2 separate regions of the Homo sapiens genome follow, and region 1 is linked to region 2. The links come from fine-mapping of genetic effects on gene expression. A gene starts in region 2. The other region holds a variant in brackets. All regions are shown on one strand. Distances are from middle to middle.

The links.
Region 1: its variant is fine-mapped to the expression of PIP5K1C in pancreas (GTEx, PIP 0.97).

What each region holds. Positions count from the first base shown.
Region 1 is chr19:3,629,017-3,637,664 of GRCh38, forward strand. PIP5K1C (phosphatidylinositol-4-phosphate 5-kinase type 1 gamma) reads right to left here. Exons shown (of 18, transcript NM_012398.3): 17 at 4,421-4,504; 18 at 1,167-4,153. The coding sequence ends at 4,151. Among named protein-coding and RNA genes, the nearest start is that of CACTIN, 6.6 kb to the left of the region's middle. The variant A/G (reference allele first, on the strand shown) is at 4,178.
Region 2 is chr19:3,695,343-3,703,990 of GRCh38, forward strand. It overlaps PIP5K1C (phosphatidylinositol-4-phosphate 5-kinase type 1 gamma), which reads right to left and starts at 5,126. Exons shown (of 18, transcript NM_012398.3): 1 at 4,955-5,126. The coding sequence starts at 5,048. RefSeq lists an enhancer at 4,183-4,966 and silencers at 4,665-4,804, 4,885-5,374.

The sequences.
Region 1 (8,648 bases), 66 kb before region 2:
AACGGCTCCCTTACAGACAGGATCTTACTTTTTTTTTTTTTTTTTTTTTGAGACATTTTCTTGCTCTGTCGCCCAGGCTGGAGTGCAGGGGCATGATCTCAGCTCACTGCAAACTCTGCCTCCCAGGTTGGAGCAATTCTCTGGCCTCAGCCTCCCGAGTAGCTGGGATTACAGGTGTGAGCCATCACGCCTGGCCAGGATCTTGTTTTCAATGTAGTTTCTCAACCTGGGAGTCCAAGATAAATGTGTTCCCTTCAAGGGGTCCAAACGTGACTGAATTGGAACCGCTCTAGCAGAACAAATACAAACTTTGGGGGGCTGCAAAGATGTTGGAAACAATAAAATGTTTTCTGAGCTGAACTGGGACCTGAAGAAGGTTCACAGCTGGTAAGGTGTTTGGGTCCTATTACTGGTATCAGCATCAATCTCACAAAGGTTTCTCTCTTCTCTAAGATTCAAAGTCAGTCCTCAGGCCAGGCACGGTGGCTTACGCCTGTAATCTCAGCACTTTGGGATGAGGCGGGTGGGTCCTTTGAGGTCAGGAGTTTGAGACCAGCCTGGCCAATGTGGTGAAACCCCGTCTCTACTAAAAATACAAAAAAATTAGCCAGGTGTGGTGGCGGGCGCCTGTGGTCCCAGCTACTCGGGAGGCTGAGGCAGGAGAATGGCTTGAACCCGGGAGGCAGAGGTTGCAGTGAGCTGAGATCACTCCACTGCGCTCCAGCCTGGGCAACAGAACGAGACTCCATCTCAAAAAAAAAAAAAACAAAACACAGGCTGGGTGCGGTGGCTCACACCTGTAATCCCAGCACTTTGGGAGGCCGAGGTGGGCGGATCACGAGGTCAGGAGATCGAGACCATCCTGGCTAACATGGTGAAACCCTGCCTCTACTAAAAATAAAAAATTAGCTGGGCGTGGTGGCGGGCGCCTGTAGTCCCAGCTACTCAGGAGGCTGAGGCAGGAGAATGGTGTGAACCCAGGAGACGGAGCTTGCAGTGAGCTGAGATTGCGCCACTGCACTCCAGCCTGGGTGGAGAGCGAGACTCCATCTCTTAAAAAGAAAACAAACAAACAAACAAAAACAGAAAACAAAAAACACAGAACAAAGTCACTCCTCAGACTCCCAACCAGACCTCCGGAACCCACAGAAAGGCAAACAGGCGGATGCTTATTACCCGATTTATTAGAGAGATCTCTAAAAAGACGGGGTGTGGCGGGGGTAGGTGGGCGAGGAACCTGGGATGCAAACCAGTGTTTGGGGCCAGGAGTGGCTGTATGGTTTCAGAGGCGCCCACCACTCTGGGTTTGAGGGACACAGCACCCTCGTCTCGGCGCTTTGGATTGTCACGCACCAGACCACGGGGCGGAGGAATGGAGTGGCATCCCTGGGGGGAGTTAAGACACACGAGGTTTGCAGTTTCATTTTGTTTCAGAATCAGTTTGGCCATAAAAATGGGACTGGGTTGGGGACAGGCGGAGCGATTGAACCACCGGAGATGAGGAGGAGGTGGCAGGCGCCTCTCCTGGGGTGGGGACTGAGGGCTGTGGAGACAGTACCATGGTGAAGGACCCCATGGCAATGGGAGTATTGCACTGAGCCAGGTTTCGGGGGAACGGGGACGTGTCGGGATGGCGTAGGGGGACAGAGCCTGGCAGGAGACACATGGAAGTTTCCGCCTTGTCAGTCTCAGAGCAAACGCCTTTTAGTCTTTACAGTACAGGAATTTGGACACTGCCCACGTTCTCAGTGGACAGCAGCCATCAGAGGTGACCCAGGAGGGGAAGTGGGCATTGGTCACCAAGGTATTTACAGACTTCTATCATGGGGGACAGCGGGGTGGGTCCAGCAGCCTCCCTCGCGGGGGATCTGAGGGAGACCGAGTTCGCTAAATATTATAAATAGGTCTTGCCGTCCTCCTGCCCCCGCCCCTCGGCACAGTCAGTGGAGCACGTCAGCCTCGGTTTACAGTTCTCTGAAAAGGAACCAAAAAACACAACCAACACCAAGTATATCTCCAAAAGGGCCTTGGAGACAACACAAGAATGGAAATGAAATGGTATCCACAGAGGTTTGCACATTTCTCCTGCAAAGGCGCGTCGGCCGGGCACTGGTGTCCCGTGTCACTCAGCGGAGGGAGGCTGCCCTGGACGCGGTGCCGCCCGCCCGGGGCCACACCTGCTGCTCCGAGTCACCCCACAGGCTCTTGGCGTCTCTGGTGCCAGGGCTCTGGGCAGGGCGACTCGAGGACTCCCTGGGAGGACTGGTGTGGCCTCTGGGGGTTGGGCCTTTGAGATGACAATGCCCCTGTCCCTGCTGGCCATCCAGGTCCCAGACACCCCTTCTGACCTCTGCCCCTGCCTCCCCGGGGGGTGCCTGCTGGGTGTCCTTCGGAGGGACAGGGCGGGGGCTGATGGGTGGATGCCCGGTGCCAGCAGATGAGCACCAGGCTGTGAACTGAGGCCAAGGTCGCTTCCCAGGGCTGGACAGACCCTCTGAGCACGCAGGGAGGACCCCACGTGGGCTTGTCCTGATGGATGCTGGGAGCCACGCGGCTGGCCGGTTCCCGAGGAGGGTCGGCCCCTCTCCTGGGCAGAGTGGAGGGGCTGCTCTCGTGGAGTGTGTGTCCTCGCTGGGGACCTCGGGGATGGGTCCGGCTTCTCCACAGCAGGGGCCTTCCGGGCGCAGCGTGTGGGCTGTGCAGGAGGCCGACGGGACGTGAACAGCGGGTGGCGTGGCGTCATACGGAGGTTGTAACAGACAAAACACAGAGCCCTGCCTGGGAGGTTCTCCGGCCGTCTCAGACCCCACACCAGGCTCTGCCAGGTCTGGAGAGGAATTCTTCCCAAAGGTGCAGCTTCCACTCCAGCTCCTCACATCCTGGGCACATCTTGGAAGTGGGGGATTCCCACAGCCATCACCAATAAGCCCCTCTCAGGGGTCCTGGGGAAGGGCAGGGTGGGTGACTCTGCCGAGCTCTGGCCTCCAACCAGCACCCTCTGAGCGCAGCGGGCCCAGGAAGCTGCCCCAGGGCAGTCTGGGCTGAGTCCCACCACTGGGAGCGCTGCCCTCTTGGAGGGTGATGAGTCGGAAACAAAGTCTTCTCTCCCCTCCTCGGAGACATCACATCACTTAAACAAGAAAGAGGCGGCGGACATCCACACCAGTCCTGAAGGAGACTCCTGTGGAGCCGGGCCTGGCCCCCTAGGCCATGTCTCCACGTGGAGGGGGCGGGGAGCCTGACCTTCCGCCCTGAGCTGGTCTCCTGTGGCCCAAGGCCCGGCCTCCCGCTCTGTCCTGCCATGGAGAAAACGTCTCCGTTGCCTGGGCCCTCCATGCCAGTTGCTGAGTGGCCTACGTTGGAAGAGAAGGACAAGTCCCCAGCCCTGAGCTCCGCCAGCGTGGGTGGCAGCCTGGGGAAGAGGAGGCCTGGCCCTCCAGCTGTGGTGGGTCTGGATTGGAGGCGCCAGAGGTTTTTGCTCGAGGGGCACCTGGGAGGTGGGCGTCAGGGCCCCACTGCGGCGGGAACATAGCTGCTGAGTGGCCGCAGTGCTTGGCAGGGCGAGGGCTGTCCCCACAGTCGATGTTCAGGCCAGATGTCCTGCACTGAGGCCCCCAAACCCAAGCTGAGGGCAGGAGGGTCCGCTTCCCACGTGGATGGAGGCAGAGTTGCTCGGGACCCCAGCCGTCCCCTCTGCAGGCCGATGGGGCCCCCGGGGCTCAGGTCCCCAGAGGCCACCGCGAACAGCCTGGCTTCTTCCTCAGGACACAGGCAGGCACAGCAGAGAACCAAAGAGTGCAGTGGGCAGGGGCTCTTCTCCCTCTGGTTGGTTTGTTTGTGTCTTTTTTGTTCTTTTCCTAAAACGGCACACACGTGCTTCCGTCTCTGTGCCAAATAAGGACTCAAATGCGATTGGCCGCTCGGGAGGGTGGGTCTCACAGGGGCAGGCTGCCGACCGGGGTGCCGGGGCCCTGGGAGGCTTGTCGGGGAGGGGCCCGGCCGTCGGCATCCGTGCAGGGGGAGGACGAGGTCCGGTGGGGCGGCGAGGCGGGCATCTCCCGAGCTCTGGGCCTCAGCGGGGTGGGCAGCGCCTTCGGGGGCAGCCGGAGCAGAAGTGGAGCTCGGCTCTGGGTCGGGGGCTGCATAGAAATTACTGCAAGAGCAAGAGGACAGGTGA[A/G]GGTGGGCGGGGCGAGGGCCCACCCCAGGCCCCCTGCCAGGGACTGGCTTCCTTGGGCCAACACAGGCCCTGAGACACTTAGCCCACGGCCACCTCAGAGCCAGAGAGCCCAGGGTGGAGCTCTGGGCCACCTGTGCCCTCCCGCCCCGGGCCTCAGTCCCTGCCTATCCCAGTAGCTGGGGACCACGCTCAGTAGAACCTTGGAGCCCACGGGACCGGCGGGTGCACCTGGGCTGCACTTACTGTGTCGCTCTCGCCGTCGGAGGCCGGGGGGGCCTGGGCGCTATAGTGGAGCGGGGAGTACACCCAGCTCCTCTCATCGGTGGGCTGGCAGGTGGGCGCGCGTGCAGGAGGGCGCGGAAGAGCAGGGTGCGAGGAGGTGCAAGAGAGGCAGAGGGAGGAAGGAAGAGACAGGAGAACATAAAAGAGGCGAATCCCCCATGGAAGACGAGGGGTGGCTCAGCCCAGCTGCCCTCTCTGACCCGGTGGACTTGCTCCCAACCTGGACGGGCCTGGGGCCTCAGCTCAGCTTGGCGGGGCGGGGCACGGCGGGCGGCAGAAAGCAGTTAGTTCAGTCGAGGCAGGGCCTGAGATAGCAGGTGACAGAGCCGGCGGAAGCGGGTGGGGGTCGCGACCTGGAGCACCGAGTGTTCCTCCTCCTCCTCCTCCTCCACAGCCCGGCCCCACCACAGCCCCCAATCCTGCCTGTGCCACGGGCACCAGCGCACAGGCTCCTGGAAGCTCTCTATGGGGGTCCTGGGAGGTCGGGGTGCCGGACCTACTTCCCAACCCAGAAGCCTTTTGGGACCTGAATATATGGCTGCCTGCGGGCAGGGCCAGTCCCCTCTGCCAGCACAGACGTGCTAGGAGAGACTGAGGCTCGGACCACCCACCCTGCAAGAGCCAGGAGACGCCTTCCTGAGCAGCAGGGCAGAGTGAGGGCCAAGTTCAGGGCTAGGCACAGGCAGGGCCGTGTGCAGGGACACGGACAGCTCTTCCCAGCTGTGCCTGCGTGAGGGGTCCCAGGTCTGGGTGGGATCTGGGGAGGGAGGGAGGGTGCGTTCCTCCAACACCTCCGTCCCGCCTCCTGAGGAGCCCCCACCCCCTCAAGCTCCCCCTGCTTCTCCTGCCCCTAGGCTGCTCTGCTTTCTCAGGGCTCCAGCCTGGCCGCCCTGTCTTCCTTGTTGTGTCCTCCTCTCTCTCGGGCCTCTGTCACCAACCCAGCCTTCAACGCCCCTCCCGGCACAGATGACCTGCGAATTTCCACCAGGCCTGGCCTCGGCCTGAAGTGCCAGGCCTGAATACACACCTGCCTGGCCACGTCCACCTGGCGGCCCTCGGCCCCTAAACTCGCCACAGTCACAACCCAGTCCATCACCCCAAGACCCACTGCTCGTCCTTCCAGTCAGGATGACGCTGCCCACCTGCTGCCCAGGCCAACCCATGCCTCTGCCAGCTCCCAGTTGCCCAGCCTGGGCCAGCAGGGGCCTCCCTTGTGCTCCAGGTGAGCCCAGACCTCACCTGCAGGAGCACTGCCTCTCCCTGCCTCGGGCTCTGCCTCCATGCTCCCTCTAAAGGGCCCACCTCTGTGCTCACTCCACCCTGCCCGATCCTACAGCTTCCACAAGACCCCTGTTCCCGGGCCCTGGGCACCGAGGGCAGCGCACTCCTGCCCTGCGAGGCCGCATCGCGGAGGACTGACTCCTGCACTGAGGGGCCAGGACCCCAGCGCAGGCCTTGCCTGTTCCTCCAGGGTAGCAAATGCAGCCTGGAATCCCTGACGTGGGAATGGCAGGTCAGGTCCACCCAACGTCCCTTGAGAGCCCGGCATGGGGAGCCTATGTGGGTGCTCAGTACTGATTTGGTGGCTGCACTGATGGATCCCATGGGGACTTGAAAATGTGGGGCCAAAACAGGGTCCCCACCTGAGCCCTGAAAGAACTGGCCCGCAGGGAGGAGGGTGGCAGCAGCCACCTCAGAGCCGCTCTCTGGGAGGGGCATCCCGGGCACACACAGCACGTGGGCAGGGATGACAGTATCCTTCTGCTACAGCATTAGAAACGGGGATACAGGCCAGGTGCAGGAGCTCACGCCTGTCATCCCAGCACTTTGGGAGGCCAAGGCAGGTGGATCACTTGAGGTCAGGAGTTCAAGACCAGCCTGGCCAATATGGCGAAACCCTATCTCTACTAAAAATACAAAGATTAAGGCCGGGCGTGGTGGCTCACGCCTGTAATCCCAGAACTTTGGGAGGCCGAGGTGGGCAGATACCTGAGGTCAGGAGTTCGAGACCAGCCTGGCCAACATGGTAAAACCCCATCTCTTACTAAAAATACAAAAAATTATTGGGGCATGGTGGCAGGAGCCTGTAATCCCAGCAACTCGGGAGGCTGAGGCAGAAGAATCGCTTGAACCCAGGCCAGAGGTTGCAGTGAGCTGAAATTGAGCCACTGCATTCCAGCCTGGGTGACAGAGTGAGACTCCATCTCAAAAAAAACAAACAAGGCTGGGCGCGGTGGCTTACGCCTGTAATCCCAGCACTTTGGGAGGCTGAGGCGGGCAGATCACGAGGTCAGGAGATTGAGACCATCCTGGTGAACACGGTGAAACCTCGTCTCTACTAAAAATACAAAAAAATTAGCCAGGCATGATGGCGGGCGCCTGTAGTCCCAGCTACTCGGGAGGCTGAGGCAGGAGAATGGCGTGAACCCGGGAGGCGGAACTTGCAGCGAGCCGAGATTGTGCCACTGCACTCCAGCCTGGGCGACAGAACGAGACTCTGTCTCAAAAAACAAACAAACAAAAAACTCAAAATTAGCCAGGCATGGTGGCAGGCGCCTGTAATCTCAGCTACTCAGGAGGCTGAGGCAGGATAATTGCTTGTACCTGGGGGGTGGAGGTTGCAGTGAGCTGAGATCATGCCATTGCACTCCAGCCTGGGCGACAGAGCAAGACTCCGTCTCAAAAAATGAAAAAAAAGAAAGGGCAGGACAGGTGGCTTCCTTGTCCTGCAGGAGTTGGGGGGACAGAGAGGGACACCCTCAGCCAGCAGCTGGGCAGACAGGGGAAGTGGGGGGCAGTAGCAGCTGGGACCCAGAACCGGGTGACCCCAGGAAGACCAGAACCAAGGGCACAGCCTCTTCAGCACTCAGGCCTTGGGGTGCTTTCAATGGCTGCCCTGCCTCCCTTCTGGCCCCCACACTTCCGCTTCTGCTGTGCCTGCTGCCGAGACCACCCTCCCCACGTCTGCCCCTTCAAGTCAGGTGTTTTTCAAAGTCCAAGCACCCCCCTCCGTAGGCGGCCTCTGCGAACTGCTCCCTGCCTATGGTGGGGTGGCCAGCAGGGCCGCTGGGTCTCTCCAGTGCTCCTCCTCCCAGCAGGCCCCTCTGGGCAGCTCCTGGACGATCTCCGGGGCACGGCTTCGCGGTGGCTGGCTTCCCGCTGGCTCCGTGGGACGGAGCTGCCTAGAGCAGCCGGGGAAGTGGTCTCCACCTCTTGGGGTCACTCCACAGTGCCTGGCACACAGAGGTGCTCGGAGAGGTTTGCTGATGGGCGGGGAGTCACGGCGGCCTCGGCGGAGGCTTTGTCTCGAGGGGACACTCCTGCTTTGGGTCTGCGCCCCGTTCTGGCTGTGCGGTGCTGGGCAGGTCTCTTAGGCTCTCTGGGCCCCTTGCTTATTGGTCATAATGACAACAGCAGGCCCTGAGGATCTCACAGCTACGTGGGGCCCATGTGGCGTCCCAGGGGGACCTCCTTGAGAGCTTGGGGATCTGGATTTTGACTAAACCGTGTGGTCTCCCAGGCTCCCAGGGGAGCCGAGGCCTCAGCGCCTCCATCTGTGAGGTGGGTGTGGAGAGACCATCTCCTCCCCGTCTCCATGGCCCTGCGGTTCAGAGCCCGGCCCTGCAGCCACTCTGCTGACCTGTGCAACCTCCCCTGTGCAGCCAGCGGGGCCACGGGCAGCCAGGTCTGCACGAGTGAGAAGCGTCCACCCAAGACACCCTGACACGAGAGGGCTGGGTCCAGGGGCAGAGAGGGGCTCGCTGGGGTCTGGCCGGGGTCCGAAGCAGACCCTGGGCCTCAGCTGTGCACCTGGTGATGGTGCTGCCCTATGGAGCGCCCGGTTCGACGTGGGACCGAATGACATTCCCAGTGACGCATGCAGCCCAGCGCCTGGTCCGGGGCCAGCGTGGCTGACCTCAATTGCAGCCGTGATTTACCCAAAGCCCTTCTGGAAAACAACTGACGTCAGACACTGAGCTTCCGGCCGGGGACCTGCGGCTCCCTGCTGCCCGAGGGGCACTGCCCCTTCTCCCCAGGGTGGCCGGCTGCGGTCACTTACAGTCCCCGAGGCGCTCAGCGTCACGGCCCGCAGTCGGCGATGGCGGGGAGAGTAAATCCAGTACCTCCCATCCGTGAACTGGACGGGGCGGGCCGGGTGGGCCGGAGGAGGAAGGAAAACAGAGGACAG
Region 2 (8,648 bases):
CCTCTCCTCCAACAGCAACCTGGGACGGAGGGGGCACCCAGCTTTCTCACGGGGCCGGCTGCCTGTCCCGTGCCTTCTAAGGGCTTTACCCCATGATTCTCCATGCAGCCCAGGAGAAAGGCAGCCATCACGCCCACTTTACAGACAGGTACACCGAGGCTGCACATCCCCGGCTGGCATGCAATGGCGCTGGGTGTGAACCCAGGAGGGCCGGCCCCCGAGGCCTCTCCACTGGGACACCCAGGCTGTGGTGGTCACAGTGCCTGACCTGCATCCCGGGAGGCGGCCAGGGCGGGAGAGAATGGGGAACTTTCCGTCCCCAGTGTCCTCAGCCTCCGCCTGGGCCCTGCTGACTTGCAACAAGAGACACCACAATCCCACTGACCCTTTTTTTTTTTTTTTTTTGAGATACGATTCTGCTGTCACCCAGGCATGCAGTGGCACGATCACAGCTCAGTGCAGCCTCAGCCTCCCAGGCTCAGGTGATCCTCCTGCCTCAGCCTCCTGAGTAGCTGGAACTACAGGTACATACCATTACGTCTAGCTACTTCTTTTAATTTTTTTTTAGTAGAGACAGGGGTCTTGCTATGTTGCTCCAGGCTGGTCTCAAACTCCTGAGATCAAGTGATCCTCCTGCTTCAGCCTCCCAAAATGCTGGGATTACAGGTGTGAGCCACCGTGCCCGGCCTCCCTGACCTTTTTACACAGACCACCACAGCTACAGGGAGGCCCTGGTGGCGGTGCTGACTCCCTGCCCGGCCGCCCTGTGACCACACTACACTGTGCTCCAGGCAGGCGGGGCCTCTGCTGGGGCCATGCCCTCTTCCTGCCCAATGCCCACAGGTCTCCCTCGGATGCCACCTTCTTGGCAAGGCCTTCCCAGCCACCCCATTCTACCTTACCCTTCCTCCCTGGCACTGCTGGCCTCATGCACCTGATGTTCACCAGGATCTGCACTGTGCTGAGCTCTTCCGGGCGCAGGGGATGCCGCAGGAGTGGCACAGACGGTCTTGGCCCTCGTGGAGCTCTCGCTCAGGAGGAGATGGTCAGAAAACACGTCAGCAGAGCCATATGTTTCAGGTGGTGACAAACGCTATGGTGGCACAATCAGGGAAGAGGAACCGGGAGGGCAGGGGACGGAGAAGGGGAGACCGCTGTGTGGTGACAGCAGGGCAGGGAGGCCTCACGGAGAGGAGATGCTCCCACAAAACCTGGAAAGCGCTAAGGGAGCAAAGGACACAGATGGGAGGAGGGGCATTCCGGGGTGGGGGTGGGGGGCAGCCGTGCAAAGGCCCCGGGGCAGGACCATGCCCTGCATGCTGGAGGAACAGCAAGGGGCCCATGGGCCTACAGCAGAGTGCAGACGGGAGGGCAGGGAGGGCAGAGTGCGGAGGGGAGGGCAGGGAGGGCAGGGAGGGCCCGGGGCAGGCTGTGCAGGGCCTGATGGGCTTCAAAGAGGACTATGTCTTTGACCCCAAGGGAGGTGGGAGCCATGGAGGGCTGCGAGCAGAGGAGGGTCGGGACTCGGGCCGCTGGTTTTTAATGGGGTCCTCCTGGAATGTGGGACAGGGAGCAGAGGAAGAGCAGGGGCGCCAGGCCTGGCTCAGGGGGCAAAGGAGGACTGAGCTGGACCGAGGAGGACTGAGCTGGACGGAGGAGGATCGAGCTGGACCGAGGAGGACCGAGCTGGACAAAGGAGGACTGAGCTGGACCGGGGAGGACCGAGCTGGACCAAGGAGGACCGAGCTGGACCGAGGAGGACCAAGGAGGACCGAGCCAGACGAAGGAGGACTGAGCCGGACGAAGGAGAACCGAGCCGGACAGAGGAGGACCAAGCTGGACTGGGGAGGACTGAGCCGGATGGAGGAGGACTAAGCTGGACCGGGGAGGACCGAGCTGGACCCGGGAGGACCGAGCCAGATGGAGGAGGACCAAGCCGGATAGAGGACCGAGCCGGATGGAGGAGGACTGGGCCGGACGGAGGAGGACCGAGCTGGACCGGGGAGGACCGAGCCAGACAGAGGAGGACTGAGCCAGACGGAGGAGGACTGAGCTGGACCGGGGAGTACTCAGCCAGACGGAGGAGGACCGAGCTGTACGGAGGAGGACCGAGCTGGACCGAGGAGGACCGAGCTGGACCGGGGAGGACCGAGCTGGACCAGGGAGGACCAAGCTGGACCCGGGAGGACCAAGCTGGACCCGGGAGAGGCAGAGGACAGGGAAGGAGTCAGTGGGTTCTGGGCCAGTTCTGAAGGTGAAGCTGCCATCATTTGCTGCCAGATCAGCCGTGGAAGTGGGGCAGGGGCAGGGATGCAGCTGACCTTTCCAGGGCATCACAGAGACAGATCAGCCGTGGGAGTGGGGCAGGGGCAGGGATGGAGCTGACCGTTCTGGGGCATCACAGAGACAGGACAGCCTGGGAGAGGCTCAGACACGCCCAGGCCACAGCTCAGACCAAACTCCACCACAGGCCATCGGCCCACACAGTGGGCACAGCCGCATCCCAAGCCCCGGCCTTCCCGAGACCGCCCCCACGTGCCCCACGGCCACGGCCCATGGAGACGCCATTCAGGCCACGCCTCGGGAGCCAGGAGCCCAGGCAATTAGAGGAACCAAATTCTAAACACCAACGAGACATTGCTTTGCCTCCCATCGGATCAGCCGAAATCGCCAAGGACGATGACACTGGGAGCTGGCAGTGCCGTGGGAAACGGGCAGCCTCCCTCGGCCCCTGTCGGACAAGGCTCCCGCTGTAGCTGAGCTTTCTGGAAGGTGTCGCCATCGCTTCTAACAGTGAGCGGTGACTCCAGAAACCACGGGCATGGGCCTCAGCAGGGGCCTGGAGGCACCGATGGTGGAGAGGCCGGAAAGGGGTGGCCAACCGGCACGACAATCACCAAGCACGAGCGCCAACTCATCCCAGGCTCAGCCCCTAGCACACACGGTCATCACCCCACTTCACAGACGGGACGCTGAAGCCCGGGGAAGTGACGGCCACACAGCACCTGAAGCGCGGAGCTGGGAGGGGGACATCGGCGGGACCAACTCTGGGGCTCCCCCTTAACCACTGCCTGGCGCTCGCCCTCTCTACAAACCGATACCAACATAGGGTGGGGAGACTCCAGATGACCAGAGATAAAAAGCAAGCAGTTCACAGAGTCATAAACGTGTGGCATTTCTCACCAGGGCCGTCCTGCCCCCAGGGGACACTGAACGGTGTCTGGGTCACTTGTGGCTGTCACAACTGGCAGGTGCTCCTGGCATGGAGTGGGCAGAAGCCAGGGGCGTTGCTCAGCACCCCTAATTTCCTGACTCAAAATACCTCTGCCAAGGCACAGAAGCCCCAGTGAGGCATGAAACCATCTCGGTGAAGAACAAGCAGGCCCCTTTATGTGCTCACGTCTCTGTGGCCCAGCCAGGCACAACCTAAACTCACCAGCGCTAACATCAGGAGGGATGGCGTTGGAGGAGTGAGGCAACTCTGAATTTTAAACATTCAGAAGCAGTATATGGCCAGCTGGGGTCAGATTTCTGTGGATTTCAGGGATGGGCAGAGATGCCAGACCCTGACCTTCCAGCCCTCCCCGGCCCCCCACCCCCACCCCCCCACTCCCCCGCTCTCCCACCCCACCACCATGCTCAGTCTGGAGCTGGCAACTTTATCTGTCCCCGGTGCTCCCAGAGCCCCTGATAAGATGAATGGTCGCGGTGTGGTTTTCTTTTGGTCAGCGAGTCCTGGGCTACTTTGTCTCTGACCAGCTGGGGTCAGAGGGCTGACAGCGGAAGTTGGGGGGCCCAAGAAAGGAACCCGGGCTGGGGCCTGGTGCCCTGCCTGGGTTCCTCCACCATGTCTCTTGCTGGCCAGGCCAGGACACCGGCTGCCCGCAAAGAAAGGGGCGAGGCCACTGGCTCTGGGGAAGGAACCGGGTCACCTACCAAGCGGTTCCAGATGGCCGCCGGGAGGGAAGCCACGAGTGTCTTTCAAGGCGGGGGGTGGGGGGGGGACTTGATGACTTCCACACTCTCTCTCTCTCCAGACATCTCCCCAACTCCCAGGCAGCACGCATCGCCCGCCCGCCCGCTTGCCCGCCTGCCAACCAAGGAAGCTTCGGGAGGCCTGGGGGGAGAAGGAGGACGGATGCCCGTGTGGGTGTCTACAGAGACGCTGCTGCTGGCTGCCTGGGAGGAGCAGAGGATTTTGTGAATCCGGAAACTTCCGATTTGGGAGCTTGTGACCTCGACTGAGAAGGAACTGTTCCCTTCCTCTGGGCTCTGCACACCGTCCCCACAGAAGGGAAGGCCCAGCTGCCGCCACCTACCCGGCTGGAGGTCCAGGAAGCAGCTAAAGGGGGCATGAGACAGCCGTGCCCCCCGCCCAGCCCGCAGCCCCACCAGTGTGTCCTGGGGGAAGGCTCGGGGAGAGGAAAAGGGGGCGACAGGGCACCCTGTGTGCACAGCCGGGGCGGTGGAGGCATCTTGAGATGTAACCCTTTTCCTCCCCTCATTTTAGCAGGGAGGTAAACTGAGGCCCAGGAAGGTGAGGAAAGGTCGCGCACCCGGACTCAGGTCTGGGGACTTACAGAAAGGGAGGTGACATCAGGAGGTGGGCACGCACGGCCTCAGAGACCCCCGCCTCCACCCAAGCAGCCGCCACTCACACGACGGGCAGCCCCTGGGAGCGGGTCAGGCAGAACGGGGATCCCCAGCGGCGCCCACGCCGAGTCGCCCCCGGCCCGGGAGCGGTGGGAGGTAGCCCCTCGCAGGCCTCCCGCTTCCCGGCGCGGCTTCAGCCCCGTCCTCCCCGCGGCTCCAGGGGACTGCCCCGCCCCAGGCTCCTGGAACCGGCGGCGCCCCCGCAGCGACCGTGCAGCCCCCGCCCCGGCCCCGCAGCCCCGCGACTCTCGGCGCTCGGACGAGCCCAGCGGGCCGCAGCCCCGGGAGGCCGGGCCGTTACCTGCCGCCGCCCCGCTCTCTGCCGCCCACGCCGCCTCCGAGGGCACGGCCCCCGCCTCAGCGCTCTCCGCCTCGTCCGGTACCTCCAGCTCCATGGCCGCGCGCGGACGGCGGCGGGGGCGCCCGAGGGGGACCCGAGCTGCGACCGCCGCCGCCGAACAACAAGCGCCGCCGGCCAAGGGAGGGCGCGCCGGGCCGGCGCGGGGCGGACGGGGCGGGGCCTGCGTGCGTGCGACGCCGCGGACGGCGCGCGGCCAATCGGGGCTCGGGGGCGGGGCCTGCTTGCGACCCGCAGCCAGGAGCGCCTCGAGTGCCCCCTCGCGCCCAGGGGTGGGAGTACAGAGCCAGGCTCGCCATTCCATCGTATTAGGTCAGTAAGATTGACAGGCACGATACGTATCAATAACATTGCTGTGCACAACACATACCAATAACATGGATCTACACAACACATGACAATAATATGGATCTATACAGCACGTGCCAATAATATGGATGTACACAGCACATGCCAATAACATGGATCTAAACAGCACATGCCAATAACAGGGACCTGCACAGCGCATGACAATAACATGGATCTGGCCGGGCGCGGTGACTCACGCCTATATTCCCGGCACTTTGGGAGGCCGAAGAGGGCGGATCACCTGAGGTCAGGAGTTCAAGACCATCCTGACCAACATGGTGAAATCCTGTCTCTACTAAAAATACAAAAAATAGCTGGGCGTGGTGGCACATGCCTGTAATCGCGGCTACTCGGGAGGCTGAGGCAGGAGAATCGCTGGAACCCAGGAGGGAGAGGTTGCAGTGAGCTGAGATCGCACCATTGCCCTCCAGCCTGGGCCACAGAGTGAGACTCTGTCCCAAAAAAAACCACACATGGACCTACACAGCACATGCCAATAACATGGAGTTACCCAATGCATGCCAATAACATGGATATACACAATACATGCCAATAACACGGATATGCACAATACATGCCAATAACATGGATATACACAATACATGCCAATAACATGAATCTATACTATATCATTGACATGGATCTACATAAAACATACAAATAGCATTGCTATATGCAATACATGCCAATCACATTGCTATACACAATGAATACCAATAACATTGATCTACACAATACATGTAACTAACATTGATACACACACTACATGTCAATAACATTGATATACACACTACATGCCAATAACATGGATATACACACTACATGCCAATAACATTGATATACACACTACATGCCAATAACATTAATGTACACACTACATGTCAATAACATTGATATACACACTACATGTCAATAACATTGATATGCACAAAATATACCAATAACAGTGATATACACAGTACATGTAAATAATATTGATCTACACAGGGCCGGGCGCGGTGGCTCATGCCTGTAATCCCAAGACTTTGGGAGGCCGAGGCGGGCGGATCACGAGGTCAGGAGATTGAGACCATCCTGGTTAACATGGTGAAACCCCGTCTCTACTAAAAATACAAAAAATTAGCCAGGCGTGGTGGCGGGCGCCTGTAGTCCCAGCTACTTGGGAGGCTAAGGCAGGAGAATAGGGTGAACCTGGGAGGCAGAGCTTGCAGTGAGCTGAGATCGTGTCACTGCACTCCAGCCTGGGCAACAGAGCGAGACTCCATATCAAAAAAAAATATATATATATATAGATCTACACAATACATGTTATTAACATTGATCTACGCAATACATATCAATAACATTTGCAATTAACTACCTGTTTATTATCATATTGCAAATAATATTTATATTCCATCGTTTGTATTACGTAAGTATAGATATGTTATTGTTTTCTTTATATTATTTTATCAATAATAATACAGTTTGCTATTATAAGAAACATATAATTATAGAAATACATAATAAATTATATATATTTATGCAAATGTAAGTAGCAATATTTATATCCTTCTTTTTTTTTTTTGAGATGGAGTCTTGCTGTTGTTGCCCAGGCTGGAGTGCAGGGGGGCGATCTGAGCTCACTGCAACCTCTGCCTCCAGGGTTCAAGTGATTCTCCTGCCTCACCCTCCCAAGTAACTAGGACTACAGGTACGTGCCACCACGCCCGGCTAATTTTTGTATTTTTAGTAGAGATGAGGTTTCGCCATGTTGGCCAGGCTGGTCTTGAACGCCTGACCTCGTGATCTTCCCGCCTCAGCTTCCCAAAGTGCTGGGATTACAGGTGTGAGCCACTGCGCCCGGCCATATTTATGTTCTTTATATAAGCACATAATAAGGCTTATGTTGTTTATGTTAATTTAAGTAATAACGTTTATATTATTTACATAAATGTAAATCATAATGATTATATTACCTATGCACATAAATAATGTTTGGGGTGGGCACAGAGGCTCCCGCCTGTAATTCCAGCACTTTGGGAGGCCAAGGCAGGAGGATTACTTGAGCTCAGGAGTTCTAGACCAGCCTGGGTAACATAGTGAGCCCTCTCATCTCTACAAAAAAAATTTTTTTAATTAGCTAGGTGTAGTGAGACCCCTCATCTTTACAAAAAAAATTGTTTTTTAATTAGCCAGCTACTTAGTAGGCTAAGGTGGGAGGACTGCTTGAGCCCGGGAACTCAAGGCTGCAGTGAGCTATGATCGCACCACTGCACTCTGGCCTGGGCAACAGAGAAAGACCCCGTCTGTCCCCGCAAAAAAAAAAAACAAACAAAAAAAACAAAAAGACAAATTCTGTGTGGTTCCACTCCTAGGAGGTCCCTAGAGTTGTCACATTCACAGAGACAGAAAGTAGGATGGGGGGTGCCAGGGGCTTGGGGGGAGACGAGGAGTGAGTGTTTCACAGGGGCAGACTTCCAGTCTCAGAAGATGAGAACATTCTGGAGATGATGGCGGTGATGTTTGCACAGCCATGGGAATGTGCTTAAGGCCACGGAGCTGTGCTCTTAGACATGGTGAAAATGGGCCGGGCGCGGGGGCTCACACCTGCAATCCCAGCACTTTGGGAGGCCGAGGTGGGCGGATTACCTGAGGTCGGGAGTTCAAGACCAGCCTGACTAACATGGAGAAACCCCGTCTCTACTAAAAATACAAAATTAGCCAGGCGTGGTGGCGCGTGCCTGTAATCCCAGCTACTCGGGAGGCTGAGGCAGGAGAATCACTTGAACCCGAAAGGCAGAGGTTGCAGTGAGCCAACATGGCACCACTGCACTCCAGCCTGGGCGACAGAGCAAGACTCTGTCTCCAAAAAAAAAAAAAAAAAAAAAAGAAGAAGAAGAAGAAGAAAGAAATGGTGAAAATGGGCCGGGTGCGGTGGCTCACGCCTGTCATCCCAGCACTTTGGGAGGCCGAGGCTGGCAGATCACCTAAGGTCAGGAGTTCAAGACCAGCCTGGTCAATGTGGTGAAACCCTGTCTCTACTAAAAATACCAAAAAATTAGCTGGGCATAGTGGCACAGGCCTATAATCCCAGCTACTCGGGAGGCTGAGGCAGGAGAATCACTTGAACCTGAGAGGCAGAGGTTGCAGTGAGCCAACATGGCACCACTGCACTCCAGCCTGGGCAACAGAGCAAGACTCGAAAAAAAAGAAATGGTGAAAATTGTGAATTGTATGTTGTGCGTATTTTACTACCATTTTTTGTTTTTTCTTTTTTGAGATGAGTCTTGCTCTGTTACCCAGGCTG